5 linked regions of the Homo sapiens genome follow. The protein of the gene in region 3 interacts with the protein of the main gene of each other region in a pairwise test. Each region holds a gene or a part of one and is shown on either strand. Other genes may lie near its edges.

Region 1 (3,602 bases), on a different chromosome or scaffold from region 3:
ACAGGTTGAGTATCTCTTATCTGAAATGCTTGGGACCAGAAGTGTTTTGGATTTAGGGTTTTTTCAAATTTTTGCATATTTGCATTGTCCTTACCAGTTGAGCATCTCTAATCTGAAAACTAAAATCTGGAAAGCTCCAATGAGTATTTCCTTTGGGTGTCACATTGGAGCTCAATAAGTTTCAGGGATGTGATTCCTGCCCTCAGGGAGCTCACAGTTGATGGGAAAGATAAGGCTCTAGCCCCTGGGAGAAAGTAAGTAGTACCTCAAGAGAGAGCAGAGGGCCAGGGAGACTTCAAGAGGAGGTGGCACTAAGAAGTGAGTCTGGGCCAGGCGCAGTGGTTCACACCTGTAATCCCAGCACTTTGGGAGGCCAAGGCGGGTTGGATCACCTGAGGTCAGGACATCAAGACCAGCCTAACATGGAAAAACCCCATCTCTACTAAAAATACAAAATTAGCCAGGTGTGGTGGCACACGCCTGTAATCCCAGCTACTGGGGAGGCTGAGGCAGGAGAATCACTTGAACCTGGGAGGCGGAAGTTGCAGTGAGCCAAGATCGTGCCATTGCACTCCAGCCTGGGCAACAAGAGCGAAATTCCGTCTCAAAAAAAAAAAAAAAAAAAAAAAAAAGTGAGTCTGGACCTGAAAAAATAAAAAATGAAAGCTTAGAAAGTTCTAGACAGAGGCAGCAGCATGAGCAAATGCTCAGAGGCCAGAAAGCCTGGAGATTGGGTGGGATATAGTCAGTAAAGAAGACCCGTGGGGATCAGTGAAGCCCATCAGTGGGAGGAGAGGTGGGAGTAAGCTTGGAAGGGTGGGTAGGGCCTTGAATGCCAGAGTAGGGAGTCTGGACTTGCCTCTGTGGCACCAGGGTGCACGGGTGGCCTGGGCAGAGGACTGGCATGGTGGGTGCTGTGCTTCAGGCTGATCCTTAGGGCAGCCTATCAAGAAGGCTTCTGATGGCCACAAATGAGCATGTTGTAGAGTGTGAGTTCTGCTAAGAAAACTTTCCCATTCTAGCTCAGAGTTAATTTATGCTTGGTTCAGATATGAACAAGGTTTCTGTTTCTAATTTTGATGTTTTTTTCCTTAAAAAAGAAATCAACAACAGTAAAAGCTTGAAATGGATACCATAATGAGGACAAGTAGGAGACAGCTCATAAGGTGGGGGTGGGGGGTAGATGAAAGTACAAATGTTCCTACCCAAAGAATGTCATCTCAGGAAAATATCAGATCATTTCTAAAGATACTTTTAGCCAACCTTTTACAAACACATGTTTTTCTATAATGACACTTCTGGTAAAAACAGCCATTTTTCTAAAAGCCTGCATGCACTAAGTTGTGGATGACATGCAGTTTTTTTTGTAAAGATATATTTCTAATAAATAACCATAACTTTCAGGCATGGCCTGCCTAGTGAGCTTTCTCTACATTGTTGCTATCATTACGTTCTCTTCCCCTATTTAAAGATCTGGACTTGTTGCCATCTCATGGGGCTGAGACTGACTACAGGAAATTTACTGAGATTGAGGAAAAAAGGAAAAAGAAGCAGTATTTGCCTTTGAGTACTTGGAAGCTCACTGATAAGCCCTGAGACACAGACACAAAGTGACTTCATTACAGTCTCCCCCGAGGATCCATCCCTGCCATCCCTCTCCCCTCCGCTCCCAACCCTACCCCGGTGATGAACTGCACAGACCTCTTACCGTCATCCTGGGCGGCAGCAGTCCTTTCTAGGGGCCTGTGGTATTGACATGCTTCAATGGAGGATGCATCACCTTTCCTTGATCATAATGAAAAAGTTCTCCAGATTAAAATGTTCCTACGCTCCCTTTCAGCAGTTGCATGCCCAGGTATCTGTCCTAGAGAGTCACTCCAGCATGTGCACATAGCACAGACCGGGACACAGTACCATGACACCAGTGAACAGTCTGAAACCACTGAGGTCTGTCAGCGTAGTTATGGCTAAAGACCAGTGTATCCTCACGATGGAATATCATGCAGCAATTTAAAAGAACAAGGTAGATCTACTTGGACCATCTCCAAGATGTATCAATAAATCATACAAAGCAAGTTTTAGAACAGCATGTTACTATTGATATCTGTGTGAAAAGCAAGCCGCCATACACACAAAACTGTGTATTACTTGAATTTCATGGGTAGACAGGGACTCATATATCTTTGTATGTGAATATCTTTAGATAAAATCTATGAAGCTACATCAAAGCAGTAACATCTGGGAGAGGAATAGGATTGGAGAACAGTATATCACTTCCTGTATATATATATATATGTATGTATATATGCATATGTATTTTTTACAATAAAAATATGTCTTACAGTCTTTAAAAGTAGACAGGGGTGTATGTGTCTTGAAGTAAAACATACTTTAAGACTCATTCTGAAGAATTCTGAAGACATTCTGAATAATGTCCATTTAGTTTGCAGCCATTGCTGACATCAGTGCGATACTGAAACCGTGCATAGGTCCCCCTCCCCATCACACACACACATGCACGTGCCTGCACAAAGACAATTTAAAGCCTAAATGTTGTGAAAGAATCATGTCTGCAGTGCCTGAATATTAGCCCAAAGATCATGAAATATATAGACAAAGCTGTAAGATTCTGTTTAATCTCTTGTTTGTGTTATGACTACATCCTAAGCCAGCCTATTCTAAAACACATATTTGGTCTTCTATTTTCAATTTTTTTTTTAACAGAAAAAATTTTGGCTGAAACACAACCTGAATTGGGAACGTGGGGAGATGGCAAAGGCGAAGATGAGTTATCCCCAGAAGAAATACAAATGGTAATGCTATTCTCTGCCTAATTATTTATTTTTAACTGGTTTTCATAAGACTGTTTCACTAAGGAGAAACTCATCCTCAATGCCCTTGCCCTTATTTTTATACTGAGTTTTAAAAATTATAAATGTGTATTTTATATACACTTTCCCATTTGATTTCCTAATTCTTACGGTGCTTTTCATATGCTTTAAATTTGCAGTAGCATAATTAAAGAAGACATTTTGCCTTGGAAGAATTTTACTAATAATAGATGTCTTTTCAACAACAGTAAAATAGTCTTCTAGACTAAATGGGTCTTTTATAAATGCCACTATGATGCTTTTTAATTGTTTGAATTGCTAGTGCTATGGTAATGTGAAAAAAGTAAGATAATGACTGAAAAGTGAAAAGAGTAACACCTTAACTACTGATAGCACCTCCTTTTAGTTACCTGCCTTCTGGTTTCCAGCTGCTATAGCTTACCATCTATGGGTGGGTTTCAAAAGGAACTGATAGGTCTGCCAAGCCCCTGCCAGCTCACGTCCAGCAATGTCTGTGTGCAGCTCATCTGGACACTGGTGTGACAGAAGCCAGATGGAATATGCTATCTGTGTGTGGGAATAGATGTCACCTAGAGCTGCTAGGATGTGACACTGTCCTCTAAGACGTGGGGAATGTGACTACCACACGGCACGCCTCCAGTGACTGTGCCTGGCAAGTGATAGCATTTTAAGTGTGCAGCAGTTTGCAGTAGACAAAACTTTTTGATTCTCATTTTATCCATGATACTTTTAATAATTGCACAAAGAGGT
Region 2 (3,602 bases), on a different chromosome or scaffold from region 3:
CTGTGGAAACACAGTGGTTGTCAAACCAGCAGAGCAAACTCCTCTCACTGCTCTCCACGTGGCATCTTTAATAAAAGAGGTAAGTCTCCCGAAATCAAAATATGCTCAAGAACTCAAGAATCCTAAATTACAATAGGAAGACCTCATTTGTTGCTACTATAAAGTACATTATTTACAGATGGCTCCTGTCCAGTGGGGGGAATACATTTAGCATGACGGCTGGCTGCAATTTCTGGCAGTCACCCCAAATTCATCTCTGCCCAAATGCAGACAGGAAGCCAAACACAAAGGTTTGGTGTCAAACAGTCAACTTGGGATCACATTTTTGCTTCTTTGTCCAACTCTCATGAACATAAATTCATGTTGAAATTAATGTAGCATTCTTTCAAATGTTGAAACATTAAGTTGGTTTGTACCTGCCACTGATGGCCTAGTGTTTTCTGCAAAATTGTGTAAACTAATCTATGTAAGGTTGAAAGGGCCTCTATGCCAATATGCTTGTTTGTAATATTGGGCCACATTATTTCCAAACACTTTTCAATCTACTCATGAGTGGATATGTTTATATTCAGTTTTCTATTATGAGTTCCTCTGCATTTATCTTCCTGTTCAAAAACAGTAAAAGAACATGTAAAACATTTTCATCAGCTATCTAGATTGTGTTAATATACTTGCAAACAATTCATTGTCCTTTTTTCTTCATCTTACCAAATCTTAAAAAATAAATGTTAATCACTAGAAACTTAAAGTTACAAAACTGAACTTATCTTTTAAAGATATTATTTATTGAAATTAAAAACAGGGAAAAGAGATGTCAAAATGAAACATTTCGATGCAAATAACATGAAATTGTAATGTGCCCAACTCAGTTCCCATGCCTTCACCTGAATTCTTTAATGAAGATTGAAATCAACCTGTGATGTTGAATCATGAATGGGATGACAGTATTTACTTAACAATTTACTAAGTAATGCCAATGGGAATTTGCAACTCAGCAGTTATGCCCTCAACAATCAACAACAGCTAGGAACTAAAAAATGTTAGATCCCTTCAGCTTCTTATTTTTGCTGATGGGAATAATAAACATGTTACTTACTTTCTACATAAGTAACTTACCAAACACTTTTTTACATACAATCTTTTTGAGTTAGCATTATGAAATTTGAAAGAGCCATCACTGGAGCAATGATTCATAGAGTATGGACTTACCCTGACAAGAAATTGTCCTTTAATAATGCAACCCTTGAAGTTATTCTCTTATGTGTGCTTAGAAATGACATAATAAGACTAAAGAATAGAGCCAGTTGGGTGAATTATTTTTTTCTAGAGCATCTCATAAGGTTGGCATTAAGAGACAATCTCAATCCCCTACTCTCCTCCTTTTTGAATTAAATTCTTATACTGTAACTTTTAAACTTTTTATCTTTTAGGCAGGGTTTCCTCCTGGAGTAGTGAATATTGTTCCTGGTTATGGGCCTACAGCAGGGGCAGCCATTTCTTCTCACATGGATATAGACAAAGTAGCCTTCACAGGATCAACAGAGGTAATATTATTTACTCAGGGCAAAAGTTAAGAATGTCTGCATTGCCAGCTATGAAGTATGTTTTATGTAACTATTTTTGAGCCAACAATTTTAAAACAAAAACTCTTTTTAATGATTTGTTACTTATTTTAGCCTTCAAACATATGGATAGAATATAAGCAGATGTAGTTTGAATGACATGATGCACCTATTTTAAATCAGAATGAGAGTAAACTATTTTTAGTATGTTCATTACTTTCTCTGACGAGAAATATGGCTGCTGAGACCTTGTCATATTATTAGGAAGATTTATAATAGAAAATTAGGCCATAGTGATTTGTATGAATGAATATGATTTTATCCTATAGGTTATGAAAATTAAATAGTAGAGTCTCACCCTTTGCACCTTATTTGGGGTTGTCTTTCTCCTGGACACTGTGAAAGAGAGCCAGAAACTCAGCTTCCCTCAGTGGTACCTAGACTAACTTTTCTGCCTCTCTGGCTTGAACTTGACCATCCTAAAGGTTAAAGAAAAAGACCCCAACCACAAAGGAGAAGTGGCGGGCAGGAGGGAGAGCAGACTAGAAGGTGAAGTTTGGGAAAATAGATCCCCATTTATTGATGATGTTCTATCCTAAGCAAAAGAAAGTGGTGGAAGCATACTGTACCATGCAAAAAAAATTATTGAGTCATTCTATTAAATTACGTGACTTTGTTAGATGCTCAGTGCAAAAATGTTATTCATTGGTACACAGTATAGACAGTGAAGAGTGAGCTTCACTCCATCTTAGAAAGCTGCTGACAACAAGAGACCAGGCAGGGTGTGATAAGGTACTAAGGCATGTACAAAATGCTGTAAAAAAGGTTCACAAGAAGGAATGATGATGTCCAAATGGGTACTAGAACTAGCTCTGGGTTTTGAGGAATTGTTACTTTTTTAACTTCCTGGAAGTTGAGAAGCAAAAAAGACATTCCAGATAGTGTGGTGAGCATAATTTGATTATTTTATAATCTTAATTATTTACTCCAGAATAAAGGCAAATTTACATAGCAAAAAGAAATGGTGGAAAATCAAACTTTATTTTTCTTGGTCTTTTTAAAATGAAGTAAATAAATATATATATGTCTTCTTTGTTTTTCACAGACGTAGAGTAAAAAAAGTTTGCATTCTGCAACTCCCTAATTGAGATAGGGAAAAGCAAACCCCACAGTCAAGATTTATTGTAGACAGAACAAGTGGGAATGTTCAAGATATGGCAATACATTTAAAAATGGTGACACCACAGGTTGAAATCATACCAGAGGAATAAAGGTGAAAATTCCTCAGCCTAGAATTCTAGACCCTCCCCAATAGGGAATCCATGTGCCTGTTGAGGTCTGTCCAACCCATGGCCAGGGATGGCTTTGAATGTAGCCCGACACATTTTTTTTTCATTCTCATCAGCTATCTTTACTGTTAGTGTATTTTTTGTGTGGCCCAAGACAATTCTTCTTCCCATGTAGCCCAGGGAAGCCAAAAGATTGAACAACCCTGGTCTAGATCCTATGCCTACTCCTTCTCCAGGTCATCTGGACCAGGAGCTACTGTTTGCTGATCTCATCTTCAGCATCAGTTTGTCTTCGCTCATCCATGATCCCCTATAACATTGGGGGAGCACTTTACCTACTTAAAAAAATCCCTGGAGATTAAAAGTCTAGAAAATATCTTGGTTTAAATTCTGACTCTACCCCTCCTAGCAGTGTGTCTTTAAAAAGTTAAGTAGCCTTACTAAATTTGAGTTTCTTCATTTGTAAAATGGAGATGAGATCAAATTTACTGAGTTGTACAGAATACAATTAAATGAGCTAATGAGTAGTAAAACATTTATCACCCTACTGAGCGCTCAGTACATGCCATATTTCCTCTTTCCTCCCATACTTTTTAATTTCGCACACTAGTTTACACAATGTGAGAAAAAAGCTTCCTGTCCCAATATTTCTTTTTCTCCATCTCTGCCACTCTGCCCCATCTCTTCCTGATTATTCCATGTATCTTTTCATTCCCCCAGGCTTTTAGTTCATCCTTGGCCATAACCTACT
Region 3 (3,913 bases):
GCCTGGCCAATTTTTGTATTTTTAGTAGAGATGGGGTTTCATCATGTTGGCCAGGCTGGTCTCAAACTCCTGGCCTCAAATGATCTGCCCACCTCAGCCTTCCAGCCTTTGGGAGGCCAAGGAGGGAGGATCGCTTGAGGCCAGGAGTTCGAGACCAGCCTAGGCAACATACCAAGGCCCTGTCTCTACAAAAATTTAAAAATTAGCAAAGCATGGTGGCTCATGCCTGTAGTCCTAGTTGCTCAGAGGCTGAAGTTGGAGGATCCCTTGAACCCAGTTGGAGGCTACAGTAAGCCATGATGGTGCCACTGCACTGCAGCCTGAGCAATAGAGTGAAACCATGTATTGAAAAAGAAAGAAAGAAAGAAAGAGAAAAAGAAGGAAGGAAGGAAAAGAAAGGAAGGAAGAAAGAAAAGAAAGAGAGAAAGGAGAGAAAAAGAAGAAAGAGAGAGAAAGAGAAGAAAGAAAGAAAGAAAGAAAGAAAGAAAGAAAGAAAGAAAGAAAGAAAGGAAGGAAGGAAAGAAAGAAAGAAAGAAGGAAAGAAAGAAAGAAAGAAAGAAAGAAAGAAAGAAAGAAAAGAGCGAGCCCCGGCACAGTGGCTCACACCTGTAATCCCAGCACTTTGGGAGGCCAAGGCAGGCGGATCACCTGAGGTCAGTAGTTCGAGTTCGAGGCAGAAGTTGTGGTGAGCCAAGATCACGCCATTGCACTCCAGCCTGGGCAACAAGAGCAAAACTCCATCTCAAAAAAAGAAAAAGAGAGAGAAAGAAAGAGAGAAGGAGGGAAAGAAAGAGGAAGGAAAGGAGGGAGGGAAGGAGGGAAGGAGGAAAGGAGGGAAGGAAATATTAAGGGATTTGCCCTAGCTCACTCAGGGCTCATATTCAGGGATCTTATTGTCTTCAGATATGAGGTGGGTCCCCAGGCCAAGGGGGCTGTGGGACAGGGTTCTGGGAAGTGAGATGGGGGAGGGAGATTCTTATTCAGTGCTATGTCTCAGGACCAGAGTTGAAGAAAAATATGGGGCAAACAGGAAGTGTGGTTGGAGCTGAGATTATTTGTTGATTGAGATACAGGTTTGGGTTGCTATTATGAAGAATCAAAACAGGATACAAAGTTACTCCTCTCTTACTTAGCCCCAAGTCCTCCTGGGTTCAAATGGCAGCTCCATTGTGTTGAGGATTCCAGCTATTTTTACTCACTGTTCTGCCACACCCAAAACATGGCTTCCACTTTGAGGCCCAAAATAGCTACTCCAATACCTGCCATCACGTTTGCATCTCAGCCTGTGGAAAGAGTGTGGAAGAGACAGAGGAGGCCACACCTCTTCAATTTTAGGGCATAATCTAAAAGTAGAACACATCACATCTGCTCCGAATGTGGCTACATGGCCACACCCAACTACGAGAGAGGTTGGGAAATGTAGCATTGAGCTGCTTAGCCACGTGGTAGCCAAAACTTGGGCAACAGCAGGGTTTTATGATGAAAGGGAACCAGAGAGAGTGAATACACGAAGAAGCTAGCAAGAAACATTGCCCACATGCAGACTCAACAGATGTCGGGGGAGAAAACTCTGAGATTGGGCCCCGGGCAGAGCCTGTTTCCTTTTCCCCTGTCCCTTTCACATAAGCCCCACACTGCAGAACTTGGAGTCAGTGGTTCATGGGGACCCAAGGACATCCACAGAAGACCGAAGTACCTGATAGAGCAGGAACAGATGCACGTCAGACTACGACCAGCTTGAACCCTTGGGGACCTGTATCCATCCCCTTCCCTTGAGTCCAGCCTAATCACAGCCACAGAATGAATCCATGACCCGGAAGGACATTTAAGGACCTCTGGCCCAACTCTCCCCACGCAACAGTGGGATTGCCTCTGCTTGTTTGAATACCACTATGGAGGGGGAACTTGCTACATTTAAAGGTTGCTGAATTTTTTTGTTTTGTTTTGGGAGATGGAGTCTCTCTCTGTCGCCCAGGCTGGAGTGCAGTGGTGTGATCTCGACCCACTGCAACCTCCGCTTCCTGGGTTCAAGCGATTTTCATGCCTCAGCCTCCCTAGTAGCTGGGACTACAGGTGTGGGCCACCACACCTGGCTAATTTTTGTATTTTTAGTAGAGACGGGGTTTCACCATGTTGCCCAGGCTGGTCTCAAACTCCCGACCTCAGGTGATCTGCCTGCCTTGGCCTCCCAAAGTGTTGGGATTACAGGCTTGAGCCACACCACCCGGCAAAGGTTGCCTAATTCTATCTCAGGGCAAGTCTGTTCATGTGGGCTGAAATCTGTCTCTCATACCTGCCCTTAAATAAGCTTCTGTTTTTCTGGTCCTTTCTGTCTGAGATGACTTTAATTCCTCCCCCGACCCCATCTCATGAGGCTCAGCTTAGATGTTTCCTTCTCTTCCTCCCTGATGGCTGCGTGCAGAAGCTCATACCTGCAATCCCAGCACTTTGGGAGGCCGAGGTGGGAGGATTGCTTGGGCCCAGGAGTTCTAGGCCAGCCTAGCAACACAGCAAGACCCTCTCTCTACAAAAAATTAAAAATTAGCCAGGTGTGGTGGCTTGTGCCTGTGGGCCCACCTACTCAGGAGGCTGAGGTGAGAGGATCTCTTGAGTCTGGGAGGTGGAGGCTGCAGTGAGCCATGATCTCACTCCAGCCTGGGCGTCAGAGTGAGACCTGTCTCAAAAAAACAAAAACCAAAGTTTTCCTTAACTTGCAATCCTCCACCCATCTCCTGACCTCCACCCCAGGCCGACCCTCCTCTGGGATCACACGGAAGCCTGGGCCCAGAATCTTACAGTCTACCTTGGAAATCCTTCAGATTTTGCCTCCAACTCCTCTTTCCATACAAGTTACATATTAACTCAATCAATGCTTATTGGATGCCTTCTGAGTTACCAGGATGCTGCTGGAGGCCTGTGCTGCTGAGAGGGACAAATAGAATCCTGATATGACTGGAACCAGGAATAGGGCCACCATCAGCTCTAGAACCCAGGGAGCAAATGGCAGGAGCAACACCAGGCAGTCGGCCCTCAGCCCAGCACAGACCTGGTGTGTTGGCTTCAGAAAATCCTGGAAACATCTCTGCTGTGTTTGGAGCTCCTATTCTGTGAGAAGTGTTTTATAGGCTTTGCTCCATTTAATCCTTACGATAACCCAATAGGACATACTATTAATGATCCCCTTTTTTTCAGACCGGAAAACTGAGGTTCGGAGACATTAAGTAATTTGCCTAAAGTCACACAGCCACATCCTGTAGGACTTGGAATTATGAACTCAGGTCTATCTGAATTTTAAAGCCTGGATTTTTCCCCCTTTGCTACATGCCTGGGAAGAACCATGTATTGACAATGAAGAATCCTAAACTCTCGTTAATTTCTGGTCAATTACTCCTCTGGGCCTGGGTTTCCTCACCTGTCAAATGGTGAGACTGGCCTCTCTTCTGTCAAAAGAGAAAATGAAGGCTGGGAAGCACTGTGTCCCTAGCTGGAATGGCCACTCCCTGTCCTGGGTCCTTTGACACCAGCCAGGAGTCCTCACACACTGCCCCTCCCTCCTGGCCTCTGATTGGCCTTTCCTGGCCTCGCCCTCGCCTGGCACAGCCTCTGCCTGAGAGGCCTTTAAGTGGCTGTTCTGGGAATTAAGGCAATTCTTGGAATTGCAGAATTTTTGGATCCGAAAGGATCCTACCCAGACTCTTCCTCTTCTGTCTCCATCCCCTTTCCTAAACCCTTTCTTTTTCTTCTGGTTGCATGTCTGTTTCCCCATTTTGGGGGGATCCCCCTGAGAACTAGAGAAATCACTGACCTCTGTCCTACCCCAGGGGCTTACAGAATTGGCCCTGTCAGGCTTCTGTAACTCAAAGGACTCCCGACTCCTTGCAGAGAACTGAGAAACTCACCATGGGGTTGTCTG
Region 4 (3,602 bases), on a different chromosome or scaffold from region 3:
TGTGTGACCTTGAGCAAGTTGCTTAACTGCCCTGAGCCTCATCTGTAAAACAAGGATTCTGAGCATATCTATGTTATAGATTTGCAGTGAGGATTGAATAAGGTGATGGATGTTAAGTGATTAACACAATGTCTTGCACATAGTAAACATCTGATAAATTATTAGTAAATTACTAGTATCAAGTGAAGACATTTTGCTTCGTGTTTTATTTTTATTTCTGTACCACTATTGCACATGATTTTCTTTTTTCCTTACTTTTTTTTTTGAGATGGAGTCTCATTCTGTCACCCAGGCTGGGATGCAGTGGTGCAATCTTGGCTGACTGCAATCTCTGCCTCCCAAATTCAAGTGATTCTCCTGCCTCAGCCTCCCAAGTAGCTGGGATTACAGGCAACCACCACCATGCCTGGCTAATTTTTGTATTTTTAGTAGAGGCGGGGTTTTACCATGTTGGCCAGGCTGGTCTCAAACTCCTGACCTCAGGTGATCCACCTGCCTCAGCCTTCCAAAGTGCTGAGATTACAGGCATGAGCCACCATGCCTGGCCTGTACATGCTTTTCATTCTTCTTATCTTCAGACCTAGAAACAGCAGCTACAGGTTCTCAGCATGGGTCCTGCTTCCGTGTTTGGTAGAACCTGGGTTGGGGCCTATTGTGTGTAGGTGAGGACATATCCTCTGTGGAGAGGGGCCACCTGGGGAACGAAGATGCTGAACAGAAGTTGCTGAAGCCCTCTGAACCATTCAGCTCTCTAAGGAACCTTCTGATATCTCCCCACAGGTGGACCTGGCCTCTCAGGTCCCTTGGTTTGAGCAGCTGGCTCAGTTCAAGATGCCCTGGACATCTCCCAGCTGCCAGAATTCTTGTGAGCTGGGCATCCAGAACCTAAGCTTCAAAGTGAGAAGTGGGCAGATGCTGGCCATCATAGGGAGCTCAGGTACCGGAAAGGCAAATCGCTGGGCAATGGTTTCTCTCCTGGGATACAGAATGGTCCTTTGGACAAATGGATGCTTCTTATGGAGCTCTTTGCTGACTAGTAGAATAATACAGCAGAATGGCTGAGAACACAGGTTCTGGGTCAGACAGACCTGGGCTCAAATCCTGGCTCCTCCATTTGCTGGCTTGAGGGTAGGTGCTGTTGTTAAGAGTCATGAGTGCGCCTCTTGTCCACCCGAGGCTGTGGCCAGAGCATCTGACTTTGGCTAACACCTGGACGGAGAGATCAGCAAACAGCTCCAGCATGTAATGTTCTTTTCAGACTCCTCCAGCCATGAGGGGCATTGGTTCAGGTTGTTCCTCCACAATCACATTCTGATTATGGCCAGACAGCCCCTGCCACACTCTCACCTCTCAGACAGCCTCTCCAGTGTCTTACTTAGCACAACTTTCACTCATCTGCAAAGAGCCAGGTTCTTGGAGTGCCTCAAATTGTCATTTCCATGGCCAAATTTAAAATGAGAGAATGTCTGAGCTGAAAGGGGGCTTGGGGAACAGAGGTCATTCTCATCATGTTCCACCTTTCTTTCTCCCTACCAGTTTGGAAGCATTTTCAGAGGAAGGTGTTCAAACTCCCTACTCCTCAGTGTGTCTAGAGTATCCTCCTGCACGCGCGCGTGCACACACACACACACACACACACACACACACACACTCCCCTCCATTTGACAGATGAGGAGACTCAAATCCAAAGAAATTGAGGGATTCTCGTAAGGACACATATTTAATGCAGAGCTAGAACTAGAACTTTGGTTTCATCATTCTCGGATCAAGACATTTCTCCCTGGGACACCCTTACATAGTGCTGGAGAGAGCATTTTATATCTTTTAATTAATCATTTCCAGAGGTAGAGATTACTCAATTTTTTAAACATTCTGCTCCAAACTTTTACACCCGTCTGGTAGATAAGTTCTGTTTACCGTATAACCAAAGATCAAATGAAATCTTATGTATAAATGCACTTTGTAACTGAAACAGCATCACAGTCATGAAGTCCCTCTCACTCTGTCCCTGTCCCTGCAATCCTGACCTAAATAAGAAAAAAGTAGATCCCGGCCAGGCACAGTGGCTCATACCTGTAATCCTAGCACTTTGGGAGGCCGAGGCGGGCAGATCACGAGGTCAGGAGATCGAGACCGTCCTGGCTATCACGGTGAAACCCCGTCTCTACTAAAAATACAAAAAATTAGCTGGGTGTCGTGGTGGGTGCCTGTAGTCCCAGCTACTTGGGAGGTTGAGGCAGGAGAATGGCGTGAACCTGGGAGGTGGAGCTTGCAGTGAGTCGAGATCGCGCCACTGCACTCCAGCCTGGGCAACAGAGCACGATCCCGTCTCTTAGAAAGGAATGAATAAATTACACTGAATAGTCTCCTGTTTTGTTTTTTTTGTTGTTGTTGTTTTGTTTTTTTGAGGCAGTCTCTCTCTGTTGCCTAGGCTGGATTGCAGTGGTGTGATCTCGGCTCACTGCAACCCGCTCCTCCTGGGTTCAAGCGAGTCTCATGTCTCAGCCTCCCAAGTAGCTGGGATTACAGGTGGGTGCCACTATGCCTGGCTCATTTTTTTTTGTATTTTTTGTAGAGATATGGTTTTGCCATGGTGGCCAGGCTGATCTCCAACTCCTGGCCTCAGGTGATCTGCTTGCCTTGGCCTCTCAAAGTGCTGGGATTACAGGCATGAGTCACTGCACCGAGCATCTCCTGGTTGTTTATAGATTCAGTGTTGTTTGGCTTCAGGTTTACTTGCCTGTGTAAAAAAAACAAAAACAAAAAACAAAACAACAACAAACAACTTTAGACAAATAAATAGTAGAGTTGTCTGAGCAAATAGTGATTAATGAATCTGGCAGCACTCAAAAACAGGACCAGTTCAGAGGCTCCCCCAAGCAATTTGGTCAGGCAGTATTTATAGACAGAAAAAGGAAGTGCCCTACAGAAATAGCTGATTGGTTACAGTTGGGTGTTCACCTTATTTATTTGAGGGTGATGTGATCAGGTGTTGGGTATGGACAGGAGCTCATCAGTCGGTAGCCTGTGATTGGCTGATGCTTGGCTGCCATGATTGGCTGAGACTCAGCAACTTGTCTCAGCCAGTCTCTGTCTTAAGAGAATATACTGCTAAGATAAGTTGCAGTTTGTTTACATACTAAGTTTGCTTGCAGTTTGCTCTGTGGGAACTCAAAGTATGCAGGCAGCCTCAGGCCAAATTTAGTTTAACTGAGCAGCTGAAATTATTAAAATGATTTATTAGAAAGGTTCATCAACTACACTTCCTGTGACTTTTACTGCCATCCCCCTCTCCCCCTGCCCAACATACACACAAAAGAACGCTGGCCATAATTTTTAAAATACAAAGAAAACAGCCAGGCTGGGCACGGTGGCTCATGCCTGTAATCCCAGCACTTTGGGAGGCTGAGGCAAGTGGATCACCTGAGGTCAGGAGTTCGAGACCAGCCTGGCCAACATGGTGAAACCCTGTCTCTACTAAAAAAAAAATACAAAAAATTAGCTGGGCGTGGTGGCACGTGCCTGTAATCCCAGCTACTTGGGAGGCTGATGTGGGAGAATCGCTTGAACCCTGGAGGTGGAGGTTGCAGTGAGCTGAGATT
Region 5 (2,873 bases), on a different chromosome or scaffold from region 3:
ACAGTTTTAGTTGCATGTTGCTTGTGTGATAGCCTTTATCAATGAAGTTATCCAAATTTAAAGTGCTAAACTATCTTTATTGTCTGTCTAGGTATCTCCTCCTCATTGCATTTTGGGGCCATTTGAAACATCTATAATTTCAATGGTTCTCTATAAATGTATATATAAAGATACATATACACACATATATATGTACACACAAAAATATAGTCATACTCTATCCTGAATTTTCCCACATTGCCAGAATGATTCATTTCTGTTATTTTAAAGCAAGGGAAATTAAACTGCTTTTCTAAAACGATTGGTAAGAAATATTTACTTAGCATCCACTATGTGTAATATGCTTTATTAAACATCATTTCTAGAATGAAAATAATTAAGAGTTTTATCTCCATTCGAATATAATAGAGAGGTCTAACCACATGGAATGGAGAAAAATCTGAATTTTAGACTCAAAACTACATTGTTTCTATTACCACAAATTGTGCTGCATCTTCTCTTTCTTCAAAAAATTTTGGACAGCAATTTTACACTAAGTAAGTATCATCCACAGTTACATGTTCCAAAAAGGCACAAAGCCGTTGTAGAAGGGGCCATCTAATTTCTCTCTTGTTCTTGCTTAGGTGTTACAAGGAAAGGCTATCGGTAACAACTGACCTGCCACAAAGTTAGAAGAAAGGATTGATTCAAGAAAGTAAGTCAAGAGAAGAACAACTAAGCAGGATTGCAGTTACAAGCAGCCTGTACACAATTATAAATATAAATAGGATCATGAATAAGCTGAATTGAGCCAGGGGATCATCAGAACTCAGGAAATTAGGCAAAAGCACCAGTCAAAGCTGTTTTGATTAGAAGCTTGCTGACCTATCCAGAGTAGGTGCTGAGAGGCCATTGACTGGGAATATGATGAATAATATGATTCAGTAGGTCATGCGAGTCACTTTTGTACCAGGTGTTCTTTGTCATTGAGGCAATATCAATGTAAATTGTTGGCTAGGGTCTAAGAATGAATGAATACAATCCTAAGTCTTTGAATTAACTTATCCTTTAAAAGGATGTAGTTAGCTTCCAGAAAATAATTTGGTCAACATAGAATCACTTGTAGAAGTTGTGAAAAACTTGTAACTTTTCTCATAGCACAATGATGACTCTGTCATCCTGTTTGAAACTTGCTACACATAGAACTGAAGTTAAACTTATTTGTAATGAATGTATGTACACAATAGTATTTGCCATTTGGAAATTTATTGAACGAAGACCTGCAGGTCCCTCATAAATTAAAGATAACAGTGTTTACTATTAATTTAAATAAACATGTATTTTTATAGTTTTAGTATAATTATTCAATTATAGATCTAGAAATAAGTAGATAAACATATATTGATAGGTAACAAAAGTGGTTTTTTAACTATATATATCACAATCTCTACGACAATGTATTTATTGGAATTAATTTCTTTGTTGGTTTGTGTTTTCTGTAGGAAATTCTTGTTAAAAGAACATTAAAGTGGCTGGGCACAGTGGTTCATGCCTCTCATGCCTATAATCCCAACAGTTTGGGAGGCCAAGGTGGGAGGTTTACTTGAGGCCAGGAGTTTGAGACCAGCCTGGGCAACATAGCCAGGCCCCATCTCCACAAAAAATAGAAAGATTAGCCAGATGTAGTGGCACGTGCCTGTAGTCCCACGTGCCTGTAGTCCCAGCTGCTTGGGAGGCTGAGATGAGAGGATTGCTTGAGTCCAGGCGTTCAAGGTTACAATGAGCTGTGGTCACACTACTGCACCCCAGCCTGGGCAACAGAATGAGACCCTTTTTCTAAGAAAAATAAAAAGGTAAAAAAAAAAAAAAGTCCTTTTTTTTTTAAACGAGAGGAGGGAGTCCTTTTGCCTCTTATTGGTATGTTATAGGCAATTTAGTGCTTCATCAGGCAGTAGCATCAAAAGTCTAATATGTAGAGGTAAATACGTAATGCCATTGATGTATGACATTAATTTAATTTGAAATGAAGAAAACTTATTACCGGGAGTTATATTAATATCACTGCTACATTTACGTTTAAGGTATAATGTTTTCCTTGAACAATGAATTCATTGACTCGTTCATAAGCCAAAATCTATACACAGTTTTTAAATTAATCAACAGGTGAAATTTGATTGTTTGTTTTTTTAAAACGCCAACAGCCTGCTAGTCTGTCAGTGGTTGTCCTAATCAGAGATAATCTGGCACATCTCAAACCATTGAGGATTGGTCACAGAAAGATGTCATCATCCAGCATTGCGTCCACACAGTCAACAGTAGAGTTTGATAAATATATTTAATGAGTGCCTACTATATGCATCTGGGTCATGAGATAGTGATCCTATTCTCAAGGAGCATAAATTTGAACATTGTACGAACTAGGTGATATTTGTTACTAGAGTTTTGTTTGAACGTTTTATTCTCTCATAAACATTTATTTAATACCTGCAGTGATGAAGTTACTCTGCCATGTATTGGGATGGATTCCAAAGTGAGTAAGAGATAGTTTCTGCTTTTCCATTGCTTGTAAATAAACAAGGTAGATGGGTAGGCATTATAATGCAATGAAAGCAGATTATGATATGTAGCATCAGACAACTGTAAACAGAATGTAACAGGAGTTCTGAAGAGGAGATCATGTCCAGCCGAGTTGACCAGGACAAGTGACTTTTAAGTTTGGCCTAGATTGAGATAGAAATAAATGGAATTTTTATGATAAGATTATGTGACTATACTACATACCAGGTATATTGACTTGGAGAATAATATTAATGAGTGATTGCAAAGCATGTATCTTGAAGTTCTTGTCTACATTTGCCTTTTTCTTTCCTTACGTTATTTACTACAGAAATTTT

The links.
Region 1: the proteins of NUPR1 (region 3) and STX18 interact in a two-hybrid assay, tested with the Homo sapiens proteins (2 studies listed by BioGRID and IntAct).
Region 2: the proteins of NUPR1 (region 3) and ALDH1A1 interact in a two-hybrid assay, tested with the Homo sapiens proteins (one large-scale study listed by BioGRID and IntAct).
Region 4: the proteins of NUPR1 (region 3) and ABCG8 interact in a two-hybrid assay, tested with the Homo sapiens proteins (one large-scale study listed by BioGRID and IntAct).
Region 5: the proteins of NUPR1 (region 3) and NPY5R interact in a two-hybrid assay, tested with the Homo sapiens proteins (one large-scale study listed by BioGRID and IntAct).

Annotation. Positions count from the first base shown.
Region 1 is NC_000004.12:4,433,981-4,437,582, reverse strand, and holds part of STX18 (syntaxin-18), read left to right. Parts: intron 1-2,724; coding exon 2,725-2,813; intron 2,814-3,602. UniProt on the Homo sapiens protein: Syntaxin that may be involved in targeting and fusion of Golgi-derived retrograde transport vesicles with the ER.
Region 2 is NC_000009.12:72,921,961-72,925,562, reverse strand, and holds part of ALDH1A1 (aldehyde dehydrogenase 1A1), read left to right. Parts: coding exon 1-79; intron 80-1,430; coding exon 1,431-1,544; intron 1,545-3,602. UniProt on the Homo sapiens protein: Cytosolic dehydrogenase that catalyzes the irreversible oxidation of a wide range of aldehydes to their corresponding carboxylic acid.
Region 3 is NC_000016.10:28,532,168-28,536,080, reverse strand, and holds the end of NUPR1 (nuclear protein 1), read left to right. Parts: 3' UTR 1-3,373; downstream 3,374-3,913. UniProt on the Homo sapiens protein: Transcription regulator that converts stress signals into a program of gene expression that empowers cells with resistance to the stress induced by a change in their microenvironment.
Region 4 is NC_000002.12:43,845,375-43,848,976, forward strand, and holds part of ABCG8 (ATP-binding cassette sub-family G member 8), read left to right. Parts: intron 1-780; coding exon 781-937; intron 938-3,602. UniProt on the Homo sapiens protein: ABCG5 and ABCG8 form an obligate heterodimer that mediates Mg(2+)- and ATP-dependent sterol transport across the cell membrane.
Region 5 is NC_000004.12:163,346,829-163,349,701, forward strand, and holds part of NPY5R (neuropeptide Y receptor type 5), read left to right. Parts: intron 1-408; exon of another isoform or gene 409-536; intron 537-623; 5' UTR 624-694; intron 695-2,469; exon of another isoform or gene 2,470-2,497; coding exon of another isoform or gene 2,498-2,509; intron 2,510-2,873. UniProt on the Homo sapiens protein: Receptor for neuropeptide Y and peptide YY. The activity of this receptor is mediated by G proteins that inhibit adenylate cyclase activity. Seems to be associated with food intake. Could be involved in feeding disorders.